2 separate regions of the Homo sapiens genome follow, and region 2 is linked to region 1. A link means that fine-mapping ties the variant in region 1 to the expression of a gene that starts in the linked region. Tissue or cell type: whole blood. Region 1 holds a variant in brackets; the other region holds the start of a gene. All regions are shown on one strand. Distances are from middle to middle.

What was found. PIP is the estimated chance that this variant, and not a neighbour inherited with it, causes the effect.
Region 2: it holds the start of COPG2, and the variant in region 1 is fine-mapped to the expression of COPG2 in whole blood (TOPMed, PIP above 0.99).

What each region holds. Positions count from the first base shown.
Region 1 is chr7:130,529,004-130,537,107 of GRCh38, forward strand. All of the region lies in intron 20 of COPG2 (coat protein complex I subunit gamma 2), which reads right to left. Among named protein-coding and RNA genes, the nearest start is that of COPG2IT1, 10 kb to the right of the region's middle. The variant T/G (reference allele first, on the strand shown) is at 3,335.
Region 2 is chr7:130,663,936-130,672,039 of GRCh38, forward strand. It overlaps COPG2 (coat protein complex I subunit gamma 2), which reads right to left and starts at 4,813. Exons shown (of 24, transcript NM_012133.6): 1 at 4,697-4,813; 2 at 3,547-3,599; 3 at 2,914-2,994. The coding sequence starts at 4,733. TSGA13 (testis specific 13) reads right to left here. Exons shown (of 8, transcript NM_052933.4): 7 at 7,726-7,853; 8 at 4,708-5,248. The coding sequence ends at 5,079. RefSeq lists an enhancer at 4,016-4,125 and silencers at 4,396-4,985, 5,076-5,185.

The sequences.
Region 1 (8,104 bases):
CTTGGAAAAGCTGGGCACCACAGTGTCAATGAAGGGCATGGGAACTGATGAAATGTCAGGTGGATTGACTTTGAGACAGGAAACAATTGTCTCCAGCATAGTAGAACCAAAAATGTAGGACGGTTAAGGGTGCCTTAAGATAGCAGATGGATCCAATGCTGCATATTGTGGATAAAAAGGATGGCAATGTTGGCAGCAGCAAGGGCAGGGCAGGAAGGGAGCTGACATCAAGGAAATGACTGCAGAGTGCAGTCATTGACTTAGAAAGTGGCAGAGGAGGGAGTGGATGCTGAAGATGAAGCTGAGGGTCTCTGGAAAATAACAGTAGGGGGATGTGCAGTACATCTTAACTAGAAAAACAGAAACTGCTCTAAAGTCCTCAAGGCATGATGTCAGACTCAAGATGGGTCCAGGAAGTTGATGGACATAAAAAAGGACAGAAGGTGCATGATAGGGGGAGAATCTCATGAATTTGAGGGTCTCAACATTGGTAAAGGGGCCAAGTGAATAGAGGGGAGGCAGAATTCAGAGTCCCAAACTGAGGTGTCCGCAGATCTCAGGATACGTTGGTGGTATGCCTGGTATTAAGACCAGACCACAGAGGCAGAATGAAGCAATAGCTCCAGCAGCCTTTAGGAGAAAGTGGGTTAAGGGCCAAAGTGATTGGTTAAACAAAGGAAGCTGGTCAGCACTGCACACTAACATGGCACCTGCATAAAAACCACAGACAGGTAACTTTAGGGACTTCACAGTGGACTCAAGCAGACTGATCCCAGATTGTAGGTAGAAGTGTGTTTGCAAAGGCCAGAGGAGCTGTTAGGACATAATGCGATGGAGACAATTTGCAACAATCACTGAATCCACGTTTCTGCTGTTTAAGGGTGGCTGAAAGGATGGAGGTATAGCTTGTAATGCAAAATATACGCAGAGGTTCATAGTGAAGCTGAGGAGGAGGGCCTTCAAAAGTTAAGTGGGAGATGTTTAGGTCAGTAGCAAATGGGCCCAGTGGGAGAGAGTATGCCCAGAGTTTGGAGAGGGTCAGGGTGTCGGGTGCTGGGATGAGGGCTTCATGTTTGGAAGACGCAAGGTAGAGAGCAAGAGAGGAGGAAAGGTAGAACAGGATGGAGGGCAAGACCTGTGTAAGAAGAAGTCTTAAACTGTAAACATGGGTGTAGTGAGGGTAGTGTGGCTAAGAGGAAATGGATCCAGATGGGCTTGATGGGGAGCAGATGGGCAGGCACGATGGCAGGGGTGCATCGGCTCACTGGGGCTGCATCTGAGGTAAATGGAAATAAAGGAGGTGAGGAAATGAGGAAGAGAAGGAAGTGGCGGGACTGGCTGTGGAGTTTTGTGGGAGCCTTCTTGATGGAACAGAAAGAAAGAAGAGGAGAAAAGGCTTGAGTGGAAGAAGGGAAGGAAAAGGCAGCCTAAGGGAAGGCGCTAGCCTGAATCAGTGGAAGATCTGGAGGAGCAACAGAAAACAGTTCTTGAAGAGAAGGTGGGATAGAGAGAGGATGGAAAAGTTTGAGCAGTGAGAGCAGGTCAAAGTAGTGAGCACATCCCTATGGAGAAGAGATGACTGAGCCCGATGAAGCAATAGGCCCTGGGTGGTTGAGAGAAATATGGGCCACAGACAGGCAGGTACCTTCCCCTGGCCAAGGAAGCAAGGAGAAGAAATGTGGACGCAAGGGGAAAGGCTTCAAGAAAGAATGTGGAAGTGGGACGATGAGGCAGTGCAACAGGGGAGTCACCTACAGAAGACAGACAGGGTGGAGGGGCCCCCAGGGAAGGATGGAGGGCAGAAAGAGTGGTGGAAGGGAGCTGGGCAGGACAGCCACAGGTGGAGTGAGGTGAAGGGGCAGGTCCCAGAGTAGGAACAAAGGAATTTGGAGTGCTCAGAGCAGCCTGCAAGGTTCGGCATAGGGAACGGAAAGTGTAAAAGGGGTGGACAGCAATAGACAGGAAGGAATGGCTGTTTTTAAAGCCTTGAACTTTGTTGCAAAGGTGTGAATCTTGGGCCAGGCTCTTTACTACGGATCCGGTGGGGAAGGGTGGGTGGTGGGGATGGGGTTCGGGGTGGGGTTTGGGTCTGGGTTGGGGATGGGGTTTGGGTGGGGGTTGCATGGGAGGGCAGGGTTGGGAATGGTGGGAGTGGGGCAGGGCATGGGGAGAGGGAATCAGGGTGGGTGGGGGGTGGGGAGTGGGGTATGTTGAGCCAAGCCCCCAGCATTGAGAACACCACTGTATTTAACTGATAGATTATATATGTTCAGGGTTGAGGGTGATGAATTCAGGCTAGGGAAGACCCTGAATCCAGGGAAAAAAGAAAGTAGCCTCACGTAGGGTGCAAGGTCAAGGTAAGGGGCTGGATTCTTACAAACAAAAAGGATTATGTGGATCAAAAGGGAAGTCTCTTAGAGGGGGGCACCTTACCACAAAAGTGGTGATTAAGGAAAAGGGACAATAGTCAACACCCAGAAGAACAGGTGGAGGCCAAAGGTAAGGACAGAGTACCTGAGAGTCCTATCAGGTGGCAGGGAGGGGCACAAAGGGTGGGGTGGGAGGCACTGAAAGAACAACTCTCACAAAGAGTGGGATTCCACCTATGTTGTATTTCAGAGAGAAAATAAGGAAGGGAATGCGGTAGTTCCACGTGGAGAGTGCCAGGCCTATTTGAGAGGGGCAGAGGAGGAAATGCTGAGATATTTGATTAAGAAGTTAAAGGAAAGCACTAGAATGCTCCAGGCCTGAAACTGGAGAGACTGAAGTGCAGGGAACCAAGGTGGTCGCAGGGAGTCAAGGTGGCCGTCCACAGCAGTGATTCTTATCTGGGATGGGGGGGTGGGTTTCACCCGAGGGAGGGCTGGGGGCACGGACCCCCAGGCAGGCCTATCCAATCATCTGAGGGGTAAGCAGTGTTCAGCTCAGAAAAAGTAAGGGAAAAAATCAATCTCTAAAATGAACGCAGACAATAGCGAAAGAGAAAACCGAGCCCAAAAGATGCCTCTGATAGGCCGCCTTGGGGTCCTGCATCCTCGGGTGAGAATCACTGGTGGACACGGGAGGATGGAGAGCCGGGCAGACATGTAGAGTGAGAGGGGAAGACGCACGTGCAGCAGGGTTGATGGAGGCATCAGGGTCAAGACTGTCAGGTGTGGGAACATAGTTCCCGACAGACCAGGACAAGGATGACAGCAAACAAATGGATGTAGCTGCAAAGGCAATGGGACCACGGTGGTGCAGCTGGGGTTTCCAACGCCTCGGTCCCAGACTGGAGGACTCAGGTGGAGGAGTGAGGCCCAGAGAAGGGTCCAGTGACACAGAGGATGTGGGC[T/G]GTGCGGGTGAGAGCAGACAGCAGGGGATCTGTTGTCATGGGGAGGGAAGGCGCAAAGGGGAATGGAGACAGCGTGGAAGGAGAGCGTCTTGAAGATATGGGCGCTAAGGAGGGAGGAGGCAGGAGGAGGGTGGGACTGACAGGAGCACCCAGGTGGAGCGGAGGAGCCGGGTCTCAGGCAGGGCAGGAGAGTCAGGTTGAGACTGGGTGCATTTGTGTGGATGTGAGGAGGAGGGTGGGGGGAGATAAGAGTGAGTGCTGATGACAAAACTGCTGTGGTGACAGGAAGAAGGCAGGGGATTCAGAGGCAGAGGCTCCCCAGAATGTTTCCACATGGTGTGAGAGAGAAGGGTGTGAAAGGTATCGGGAAGGCTTCTGGGAGTCAGGGTTGTGGTGTGCTGGAAAAGTCCCATAGCCTTGGCCACTGGATCGTGAGCATGGACAGCAGAGGAGGTGGATTCGGTGCAGTACGTGTGACGCAGAGATGACTGCATCTGGTGGAGCAGTGGGTGCGGGGCCTGGTCAAGAAAGGAGGACACACCTGAGAACATGAATTAGGCCAGTGGCAGAATCACAGATCGTGCTGAGAGAATGCAGGATGGTGCAGGTGGGACAGTACCATGCTATGCAGTAGAGGAGGAAAGCAGGAGAAATGACCAACCTAGGCCCAGGAGCTGGGAGCTTGGAGAGCAGAGGGTGAGTTTGCAGCACGTGGAAAAGCAGGACAGAGGAGAGGTGTTTCCCAATGGGCAAGAAGAATGAGTTGGAGCAGGTTATGGAGCCGAGCAGCTTAGAGAGGTGAGCTTGTTGAGAGGATCAGGGAATATGTTCCAGCAAGGGAGAATTTGCATCAAAATCCTTGGTTTTGCTGTTCAGGAATGGCAGAAATGAATGGAGGTGTAGCTTGTGAAGCAAAATATTCACAAGGAGAAAGAGACAGCCTGAAGCTCTAAGGTGTAGGGGTTGGGGCACAAGGGTGGGGGTGGGAGGTCCTATGCCAAGGACCAATAAGGAGGGAGAGACATGGGGAATCCAGAGACTTTACAAAGTCTATGAAGAAGCCCATGGAGGAGAAATCATGGTACAGGTAAGACAAGCAAAGAATGAGGGAGAGGTGGGAGGAGACCAAAGTGGAAGGAGGGTGCAGCGGTTTGGCACCTCAGAAATGTTGGGACAATGTATCAGTGAGGGAGAAGGTGAGAGGAAGGAAGGTCGGGGGGATGCCATCTAGAGAGGAAACCAGTGTCTCCCTAGTGGCAGAACGGAGAAGGTAGAATGATCAGAGCTCAAATCAGACAGTAGATGAATGAATACAGCATGTTAGGGACAAAGAAGCTGGCAGTGGCAACAACAGTGAGGGCAGGTCAGGCTGGGAGCAGACATTAAGGAAAAGACTCCTGAGTGCACTGACTGACCCTGAGGTGGTAGGGAACATGGACTAGATGCTGAAGACCAATCAGAGGGTTTCATAAAGACAACAGTGTAAGAAAAGGCAGAGGATGGCTGGTGAAAGGGTCCACACTTTATCCAGTCTGGAGTCAGAAGGCACTATGTGGGTCGTGAGATGGGTCAGTGATGTTGATGGAAAAAGAAAGGGACAGGAGGGGCGTAAGAGGAGAAATAACCTCATGAATTTATTGGGGTGGGGTGGGGGGGGTGGAGCAGAGTTGAGCTTTGATAGAGGAACCAACATGGAAAACAGGAAGATGGAACAAAGAATTCCCAAAATGGGGGTGCGCCAGACCTCATGGTGCAAATTGTTGAAATAAGCAGTATTAAAGCCAGATCATAAGAGCAGAGCAGATCGAAGAAGCAAGAGCCTGGGCATTTTTGCAAATTGAGGCCCTTAGGAGAAAATGGGGGAAAGGGCCAAAGTAACTGGGGTTACAGAGAGGGCATCAGGAATCACTGCACATGAAGACAGCACCTCCACAGAAACCACCGGCAGGGAACTCAGGGACTTGGTGATGGACTCATATCGTTTGAGTCCAGCATGTGGGGAGAAAGATGCTTATAAAATGGCAGAGGAGGGACTGCTAAGCAATGCACAGAAGACAATTTGCAGTAATCACTTAATCCTTGGTTTTGCTATCCAAGAGTGGGAGAAAGATATGGAGGTGCAGCTTTCGAAGCAAAATATCCACAGATGTCATGAGGCTCCAATGGGGGTGGGGGGCACAGGCTTCATACCTAGTGGAGCATCATAGGATTAGTGGGAAAAGTAGGTCGGTAGCAAATGGGGATGCAGCAATACAGAGTAAATCCAGTGGTAGTCAGGGTGGCAGAGATGGGTAGAGGCAAGGGTAATTCTTTCTTGGAGGCAAGAGTGGAGGAAAGGTAGAACAGGACGGAGGCCAGAACCTGTGTAAGAAGGTCTTAAATCCTAAACACAGGTGTAGTAAAGGTAGTGTGGCCAAGAGGGAAAGAGGAAACGGTGGATCTGGACAGCCACAATAGCAAGCAATATGGGCAGGGGTGCATGGGCTCACTGGGGCCCTATCCAAGGTAAATGGAAATAATGGAGATGAAGAAAGGAGGAAGAGGAGGAAGTAGCGGGACTGGCTATAGAGTTTTGTAGGAACTCACTTCATGGAACAGAAAGAGAAAAGAGGAAACAAGGCTGGAGTGGAAGAGGGGAAGGAAAAGGCAGCCGTAAGGGAAGGCGCTGGCCTGAATCAGTGGAAGATCCGGAGGAGCAATAGAAAACAGTTCTTGAAAAGAAGGTGGGATAGAGAGAGGATGGAAAAGTTTGAGCGGTGAGGAGAGCAGGTCAAAGTAGTGAGCACATCCCTATGGAGAAGAGATGACTGAGTCAGATGAAGCGACAGGCCCTGGGTGGCTGAGAGAAATATTGGCCACAGACAGGCAGGTACCTTCCCTTGGCCAAGGAAGCAAAGAGAAGAAATGTGGATGCAAGGGGAAAGGCTTCAAGAAAGAATGTGGAAGTGGGACAATGAGGCAGCGCCGACAGGGGAGTCACCTACAGAAGACAGACAGGGTGGAGGGGCCTCCAGGGAAGGATGGAGGGCAGAAAGCGTGGTGGAAGGGAGCTGGGCAGGACAGCCATAAGCAGGACAGCCACAGGTGAAGCGAGGTGAAGGGGGAGGTCCCAGAGTAGGAACCAAGGAATGTGGAGTGCTCAGGGCAGCCTGCAAGGTTCGGCATGGGGAAGGGAAAGTGTGAAAGGGGTGGACAGCAATGGGCAGGAAGGAATGGCTGCTCTTAAAGCCTTGAACTTTGTTGCACAGGTGTGAATCTTGGGCCAGGCTCTTTACTACGGATCCGGCAGGGAAGGGTGGGCTGGGTGGAGGGGATGGGGTTTGGGGTGGGGTTTGGGTATGGGATGAATGGGTGGGGCAGGGTTAGGGGCAGTGGGACTGGGACTGGGGGAGGGGTTGGGGTGGGGTGAAGTGGGCCAAGCTGTAGGCATTGAGAACACCATCTCATTCATCTGAGCTGGTGGACAATTACATGTTGAGTGTTGAGGTTGATGAATACAGGCTAGAGAAGACATCTGAGTCCGGCAAAAGAAGAAAAAACAGAGTAGCTCAGGAAGGGTAAAAGGTTAAGGTAAAGGGCTGGTTTCTGGGAAACAAACAGGATGATGACCACCAAATGGGAAGTCTCTCTGGGGGCACCTGGTCAGTGATATGAAAAGAGGAGGGATGATGAAGGAAAAATGTCAGTAGTAAGGGCCTACGAAAATTAGATTGAGGCCAAAGGTATTAACTGAGTGCCTGGGAGTCATATTAGATGGGTCAGGGCATAAAGGGTGGGGTGTGGAGGTGTCAGAAGCGCAACTCTCTCATGCAGACTGGGCTTTTGGGCACGATGTGTGTTAAGGGGTAAATGGGGCAGACAATGAGGTGGTTCCAAGTGGAGAGTGCCAGGACTGTTGGGCAGGGGGAGGGAAATGCTGGTCTTATGAGTAGGAAGTGTACCTGGAAATACCAAAATACTAAATGCTAGAAATAGGAGAGTAAAGGCCAGGGAGTCAAGGTGGCCGTCCACAGCAGTGATTCTTATCTGGGGTTGAGGGGTGGGTTTCACCCGAGGGAGGGCTGGGGACATGGACCCCCAGGCAGGCCTATCCAATCATCAGAGGGGTGAGCAGTGTTCAGCTCAGAAAAAGTAAGGGAAAAAAACAATCTCTAAAAGGAACACAGATAACAGCAAAAGAAGAAACCCAGCCCAAAAGATGCTTCTGATAGGCTTCCTCGGGGTCCTGCATCCTCGGGTGAGAATCACTGGTGGACGCGGGAGGATGGAGAGCCGGACAGACATGTACAATGTGAGGGGAAGATGCACGTGCAGCGGGGCTGATGGAGGCATCAGGGTCAAGACTGTCAGGTGTGGGAACACAGTTCCCGACAGACCAGGACAAGGATGACAGCGAGCAAATGGATGTAGCCGAAAAGGCACCGGGACCATGGTGGTGGAGCTGGGATTTCCAGCGCCTCGGTCCGAGACTCGAGGACTCAGGTGGAGGAGTGAGGCCAAGATAGGGGCCCAGTGACACAGAGGAAGTGGGCTGTGCGGGTGAGAGCAGAGAGCAGGGGATCTGTTGTCACGGGGAGGGAAGGTGCAAAGGGAAATGGAGACAGTGTGGAAGGAGAGCGTCTTGAAGACATGGGCCTTAAGGAGGAGGGAGGAGGTGGGAGGAGGGTGGGACTGACAGGAGCACCCAGGAGGAGCAGAGGAGCTGGGTCTCAGGCAGGGCAGGAGAGTCAGGTTGAGACTGGGTGCATTCGTACCGGGGGGACGAGGATG
Region 2 (8,104 bases), 130 kb after region 1:
TCACCATGTTGGCCAGGCTGGTCTTGAACTCCTGACCTCGTGATCCACCTGCCTCGGCCTCCCAAAGTGCTGGGATTACAGGCTTGAGCCACTGCGCCTGGCCTGAGATTTGGCATTTCTAACAAGTGATGCAAATGCTGATCTGGGAACTACATTTTCTGAGCAGTGAAAAAGTGTTAGATAACGTATTTCAAAACATCTCAAATCATAGATTACCTCAAATATTACCATTTCAATATTTAATGTCTTCACTAAAAGCAATCTTATATAATACGTTACACTCAATCACTTTTCAGAGCTTCAGATTCCACATAAAATATAACTAGTCTTCAATCTATTTGCCATAGGTATAAGAATAAATTTTGGTGAAAAATACTGACAGTTTAGGATAAAAGACAAAGTACAATAAGTTTATACTTACTTAAATCAGTGTATCCAGCCTGCTCATCAGCATGAGATTTATCTTTCTTTCACAACTATTTACTGAATACCCAGAAGTCTGTGTGCTTTTTAGTTATACAGGAAAACCTTACATCCTACTTTTTTACTTGAAACTCAGAAAACACATGGATATGTCAACTCTCATAGAAATTCAAAAGTATCTTTCTATAAAGCTCTACCAAGTTCTAGGCAAAGAGATAAAATTTATGTTCCCAAACCTGTTTATATAGTTAATTGTGTTTATGCTGTGCTTGGTAATTTCCTTATCAAGATAATTAAATGTTTCAACATGAGTTGCCTCATTGAAGAGGTAATGACCAACATAAAAATACATGTTACTCTCAATCAACTTTGACTATTCAAAACTTTTGTTTATACAATGGATTTGGCCAACTTAGACACAATGTGTGCTATGAAAAGTTAAACCCAATTGACTATGCTTTAAATGTTTCTCATATGCTGACACAGAGGGATTATGTTGTTTGTGAACAGATATATTTTATTTAAAACTATGTGTTTGATGATCAGGCACAGTAGCTCACACCTGTAATCCCAGGACTTTGGGAAGCTGAGGTGGGCGGATCACCTAAGGTCAGGAGTTTGAGACCCACCTGGCCAATATGGTGAAACCCCGTCTCTACTAAAAATATAAAAATTAGCCAGGCGTGGTGGTGCATGCCTGTAATCCCAGCTACTCAGGAGGCTAAAGTAGGAGAATTGCTTGAACCAGGGAGGTGGAGGTTGTAGTGAGCCGAGATTGCGCCACTGCACTCCAGCCTGGTAACAGAGCGAGACTCCATCTCAAAAAATAAAAAAAATCTATGTGCTTGTTGCTTAGTCTTCATTTGTAAACAAGAAAACTTTATTAAATCTCTGAGTGAGGTCTTCAGTCACAAAACAAAGTAAAGATAATATATTCTCTTAGAATTCAAATTGGAAACCATGGTTATCTTAGCACCATATGTAAACCACCTGAGGTATATGGTATATATGTATGTTTTATGTGTCCGTCTGTATGTGTATAGACATATATAGTCAGCCCTCCATAACCATGAGTTCTGAATCTGTGGATTCAACCAGGCTCAGATTGAAAATATTCAAGGAAAAAAAAAACTATGTTTGTACTGAACACGTACAGATGGTTTTTTGTCATTATTCCCTAAACAATACAGCACAACAACTATTTACACAGCACTAACATTGCACCAGGTATTGTAATCTAGAGATTATAGTCTAAGTATTATAATCACAGAGACAACTTATATATGGGAGGATATGTGTAGGTTATATGCAAATACTACACCATTTGTATGAGGGACTTGAGCATCTATGGACTTTAGTATCCAATGGAGGTCCTGGAACCAATTCCCCACTGATACTGAGGGAATATGAATCCATGAAACAAAATCATATTTTCTAAGGCCCTAGACATTTCATGAGTTTTTTTTAAGTCTGGGGCAAAAAAAAAAAAAAGAAAAAGAAAAGAAAAATTAATAACAACAGCAGCAAGCAGAATCTACATTTCATGAGCGCAAATATTTTTGCTGGTTTGTCTGCTATATCCCCAACACCTAAAACAGTGCACAGCACACAGCAGCTACGCAATAAATATTTGCTGAATGACGGAAGGAAAACTATTCCTGAATGCTTACTGTATGTTCAGGACTATTCTCAGTGCTTTACACTAATTATCTCATTTAGTCATTACAACTCTGTAACAGGTATTATCATAATCCCCATGTAGAGAAAAGGACATCAAGGCACATAAAATGGTTAAGCTACTGCCCAGAATTATTCTGCTAGTAATGGTAGCATAGGGATAATAAATATAAAATCTGAATATTAACAATCAAAGCTTTAAAACATCATTACACACATAAAAAAGAAAATATCTGGAATTTGCCTGATCTTGCACTGTATTTTCAGAAAAACATGAAGATCTCCAAATACATGTAAACAACATGCTCTAACTAGTACTCATTAAATTGAAACCAAAGGATTTATTGAGAATCTACTATGCGCATCACTGGTTTAGGATCTCATGAATAAAAAGGAAGTATAGGTTAAACATCTCTAATCTCAAAATCCAAAATCTGAAATGCTCCAAAATCAGAAATTTTTTGAGTGCCAATATAACACTCAGTGGAGACACTCATCAGAGCATTCTGGATTTCAGATACTCAGATTAGCAATAGTCAGTGAGTATGTATTCTGCAAATATTCCAAAATCCAAAAAAATCTGAAATCCAAAACACTTCTGGTTCCGAGCATTGCAAAGAAGGTATACTCAACCTGTATATGTCATAGTCCTCGTACTCAAGTTTTACATATTATTTTGTTAACCAAACGTTGTATATGTTAAAATTAAGTGAATTTAAAATAAATAAATATACTTTCCAGAAAGTATTTCACTGAATCTTCAGTATTTCTATTCCAGGACACACTTATCTGAGGAAAATAAAAATAATATACCTGGTTCAGTAAGTAAAGAATCTTTGTAAGAATATGCAAACATCTTCTTGGATTGATTGGAGTTTCATTGAATATACGAGCCTATGAAAAAACATAAAAAACATTGCTACTTTTCTACCTTTTCTATCACAGATTATAGCAAATCAACTTTAATACAGACTATTTTTAATCACGGTATCCAAAGAACATTGTCTATAGTTCTCAATTTACTAAGGTATCTGATAAATTATTACACGTGGCCTTGATTTTCCATCCTATACTTTCTCATTCCCTTAGGTTGACTACTTCAACTTTATGGGCTATACCAGTTAAATAAGGATCACAATACTTATCTATATCATACTAATACAATGAGATTAATACAGATAACTGATTTCAATAACCTTGCACTAAACACCTGTTCTTACATTTAAAATTCCCAACCTGTGACAGTCTTCATGTCTTTGCATTTCTATAAGCTCCAAATTCTCCTGTGACAAGTAACCCCTCTTTCTTTTCCCTCAAATCTATATTCCCTAAACTCTGTTACGTTTCTTGTTTTGCATGTCGTGATCACAGCAGCCCAGGGATTCTCTGCCCACCACTCTAAAACAGAATAGAAAAGAAAGGGCACAAGATACTTCCCAGTCATACCTCCTGTAAAACAGCACTCTTCTCCAGATGCTGGAAAGGATTGGAGCCACTACCTATTTATAAAACAAAACAAAAAAATGTCCTGAACAGCTGTTCTACACAAACTTATATACTTTCCAGAGAAGGGTACTGAATGCTTGGGAAGTGAACACTTGGATGGCACAGTGATAATCATGGCTAATACGCATACGAACTGAATGAAATCATTTTGATCCCGGCTCTGTCACTGCCATACTCGAAGAGCTGAGACTTCTCTTTCGCAGCAACCCTCTCCAAAATGAGTGTCTTCTTTCCCTGCCCTCTTTTTCCATGAATGTTAAAAATGTGTCATTTCCACAACAACGAAGATTAATGAGATTGTAGTAGGGTGCTTTTGATTTCCTTAGGTAAGCAGTATTTTATGTGTTTCTAACACTTAAGGAGAGGCAGAAACGAAGTTTCCCAGAGAATCATGCAGGCGTAAAGGTGCAAGAGGCCATGGAGGTTGACTAACCCAACCCCCTCTCACACTGTGGGAGATGCTACCAAACACTGAGAATTTTTTTCTTTTTGAGGATGCTTGGCATCTTCCCCATTTGCTCTGGACCAAAGACGGGCATCAAGACGCAGGTCACTTCTGGACACCTGAGCATTCAACGAGCTGTGTCCCACGGGACAGTCTTGCCCCCGGGGACCTGGACAGAGCCGGTGACCCCAGGAAAACGATAAGGTACCAGGCACCTGAACGTTCCTCCACACACACCCTGTGCCGTCGACCCCAGCCCCGGGAACAGGGTGCTCCCACTAGGGGTCCGACCCTACCAGCACCCCTGGACGCGGAGACGCGCGCACGCCCTCGGCCCCCGCCGGAGGCCCGCGCGCAGGGGAGGAGGCGGCTCGGAGGGGCTGCGCCGCAAGAGGGGCGGGAACGGGGCGCGCGCGGGCGCCGGGGCGGGAGCGCGCGGCCCGAAGGGAGGCTCCGGCGCCCGGGGGAGGGGCTACGGGCAGGCCCCGGGCAGCCGCGAGGGGAGGGGAGGGGCCGGCTCCAGCTCCGGCCCCCTGGCACGGCGGCGCCCACGCCCCCAGCCCCGCCGGCCTGAAAGCAGGTGGCGGCGGGCGGGGGAAGGGGCGTCCCGCGGCTGAGGGTGGGCCTCGGAAGCCCCGCGCGTACCAGACTCCTCGTCCTTCTTGTCGAATTTTTTAATCATCTTGGACGACTTCCCAGCGCCCAGACCCACCGCAACCGTCCCAGGCGCCGCAGCCGGCGAGCGGAAGAGGCTGCAGGAAGGCCGGCCCCGCGCTCTCACGCCGGTTGGGCCGCCGCGCCTTCACTCGGGGCCAAGGCCCGCCCTCCCCGGCCGCCCTCGGCCCCCGGGACGCAGCCACGCCCCCTTCTCCTCTTGCGGCCCGCCGGAGACTTCGGCTCGACCCTCCCGGCTTGCGACCCGGGAGCCCACGCCCGCAGCAGCAGGAATGTGGTTTTATTTGGGTGGCGACTTCTGCGGACCCCTCAGTCTCAAGAGAGCGAGGCGGGAGGACTGAGGGGTCTGTGTTCACCCGATGACCGTGGCCTTTTTGATAATCCACTGCGGGGCCCTCCCGTTGCGGAAGGCGCTCTCCCCGGGCGCGGTTCTGGTGGGCATGTCTTCCAAGAGCGATGCGAGTGTCAGTGGTTCCCGAATCACTTTGGAAATTGGCCTTTCACTCGCTGACTTCTTGGAAGCTACGACAAAGCACAGGCACCCTGGTGAATGTGGCTTTTCAGAAGTACTCGAAGGATACTTAATGTGAGATGTAAAGGAGACGCACTTGGAGGGACCAGAGGCTGGTCTTTAGAGGGTAGATTTTGGACCGTGTAATACCATTCCCAACCTATTTTATAATTTTTGGATTCCTTCATTTCATCAAAACCCAGTGGAAAATTCATTGCCAGTTTAGAGTCTTCCTTGTTCAAGCCTATTTCTTTCAATGATTCCATCTGAAACCATATTGACACTTAAGAAACTCACTAAATTAACGTGCATTCATTCCTAACTCATGTTCCTCTTTTTCTCAGAGTGTATGCTGGCTTTCTGTTCTCTTGTCTAAGAGTGTAGCTAAGAAACTTTGTCTGCCTTTGGCTTCACTGGCATAACTTGTTTAGAAATGTAAATTGGGTCTATACTCAACAGGATCGTGCCCCTGCAAAATTAGAGAAATTCTAACCTAGATTACATTCTACATCCTAGAGAAATTCTTTCCCTGAAATACAGATTTAAGATGAACTGTTGATATCCTACATATGGTATCATTTAAGATTTAACTCCGACTTGACTAAATGTACTATTAACTACTATGTTTGCTTTATATGGCTTGTAAAGGTCAAGTCATACTTTGTAGGTGGAGTTTTCTTTGAAGGAAATAGAAGTCTGCACTCATTTATTCTGGGGGTGAAAATAAACAGGCTTTGGGGAAGGAAACATCCTCTTCCTCTTCCTTGGCCCAAGGGTATTGGGAACCTAGGCAGAGACAGTGTAGATAATAGGCCCAGAGGTTCTCAAGGTGGGTAATGCCCCGGAGACCTGCTGAGAAGTAGAAGGACCTGAGTTCAGATTTGGGGCTGACCCTAAGACTAGCCCCTTGTAAAGCAAGATCAATCATTCTCTGCTGTTCTTCAGCTTTTCTGTATATCTATGAAGTTTTGTTTAATACCACAGGTTGTTTTTAGCTGTGCAGTATTTACGGAGTTAAGAGCATCAGTAGGTGGAAATGGGATGGGATGTGGTGGCAGATAGGTATAGCAGGAGCAGAGAAGCCTGAAGAAGCCAGTTAAGGGATGGTATAATATGACCCCAGGCCTTCGGTATCAGGACTATTTGGACTGAGGATGGCTGGCAGACGGGTTGAGCAATCACTGCAATGGCTTTGTGGGACAGGCAAGGATACCTTAGGGAGTCTCAGGAATTGTTTGAGGAGAGAAACCCAGTAGGAGAAATGGACCTTATCTTAAAACCATGAGCTGGTGAAGTCTGAGGACCCACCAATTATATATATCTAATACACAAATGTGTACTCAGTGCCCTGAAATTCTTCATTGGGTCCAAACTGCCTACTGGATAAAACCCAAACCTTTATTTAAATAATATTTAAGGCATTGTGGTATTTTCGATTTCTTGTTATTGTTGTTTGTTTGTTTTTCAGACAGGGTCTCACTCTGTTACCCAGGCTGGAGTGCAATGGCATAATCACAGCTAACTGCAACCTTGAACTCCTAGGTTCAAGCAATCCTCCTTCCTCAAGCCCCCCAAGTAGCTCAGACTACAGGTGCATGCCGCCACACCCTGTTAAATTTTTTTAAATTATTTTTTGTAGAGACAGGATCTCACTATGTTGCCCAGGCTAGTGTCAAGCCCCTGGCCTCCAGCAATCCTCCTGCCCCAGCCTCCCAAACTGCTAGGATTACGGACACGCCCAGCCTGTCAAGGCCTTTTATGATCTGTTTCATCTCTTTCACATATTGAAAGTGATATTGTTGGTGCTTGGTAAGTGTCAGACACTTAGTAGGAACCCTTGAAATACTGTTAAATAAATGATAATATGTGAGGAGGATTCTCATTGTACCCTCTGCCATACAACCTTATTCCAAGCCCCTTCTACCCCATTCCCTACCCCAATCCCAGAGACTTTTGTACCTCTAAGACACACAGACTTATCCTTTGGCCCTTTTAGAGCAGTTTTTTCTTCAAAGTATAATATGCATACCACTGGGTGGTTCTAGGTGGTACATAGATAAACATTTTAAAATTTCATTATTATAAATTTGATATAAGTGTTTCAGAAAAGCATATAATTTGTACATCAAAACCATGATATCAATGATATAGTATTAATTAGGACAAGATTTTTTAAAAATCCTTTTAAAAAATGCTAAGTAAATTAACAGCAAATAATACATCAATATGGCAAAAACTATTAAAGTGCTGGGTGATATAGCTTAGTAAACACTGCTAGAGCTTTCTTGAAATTTGAGGATTTAAACAGGGTCCAGAGCTTTGCACCTTTTGAGCCTCTATTTGTTGTTAACTTCCATGCTATAGGGAAAAATAGTCTCCAGGACTACCACGAGAGAAGCCAGTTTGCCACATCTATAATCCTCATGGATTGTATCTCCAGCCCAAATCTCAGTCCAGTAAGCCTTTGCTTTGAAAGAGAGGAGCTTACCATCTTTCCTCATATCTCTCTCATGGACTGGAGCAAAGGTGAGCTGAGGGTACATTTTCTTCTGTGTCCTCAAAGCGTAGACTTTTGAATACTTCCCTTCGCTCTTGAAATCATTGTCAGTGGAAAACCTTAACAAAGAAAGTTCTTTGTTTAGTAGATCCTAGGGCAGGGGGATTCATGGAACTATTCACTTTATTTTATTTTATTTTATTTTATTTTATTTTATTTTATTTTATGTATTTATTTTGAGACACAAGTCTTGTTCTGTCACCCAAGCTGGAGTGCAGTGGCATGATCTTGGTTCACTGCAACCTCTGCCTCCCAGGTTCAAGCGATTCTCCTGCCTCAGCCTCCCAAGTAGCTGGGATTACAGGCACTT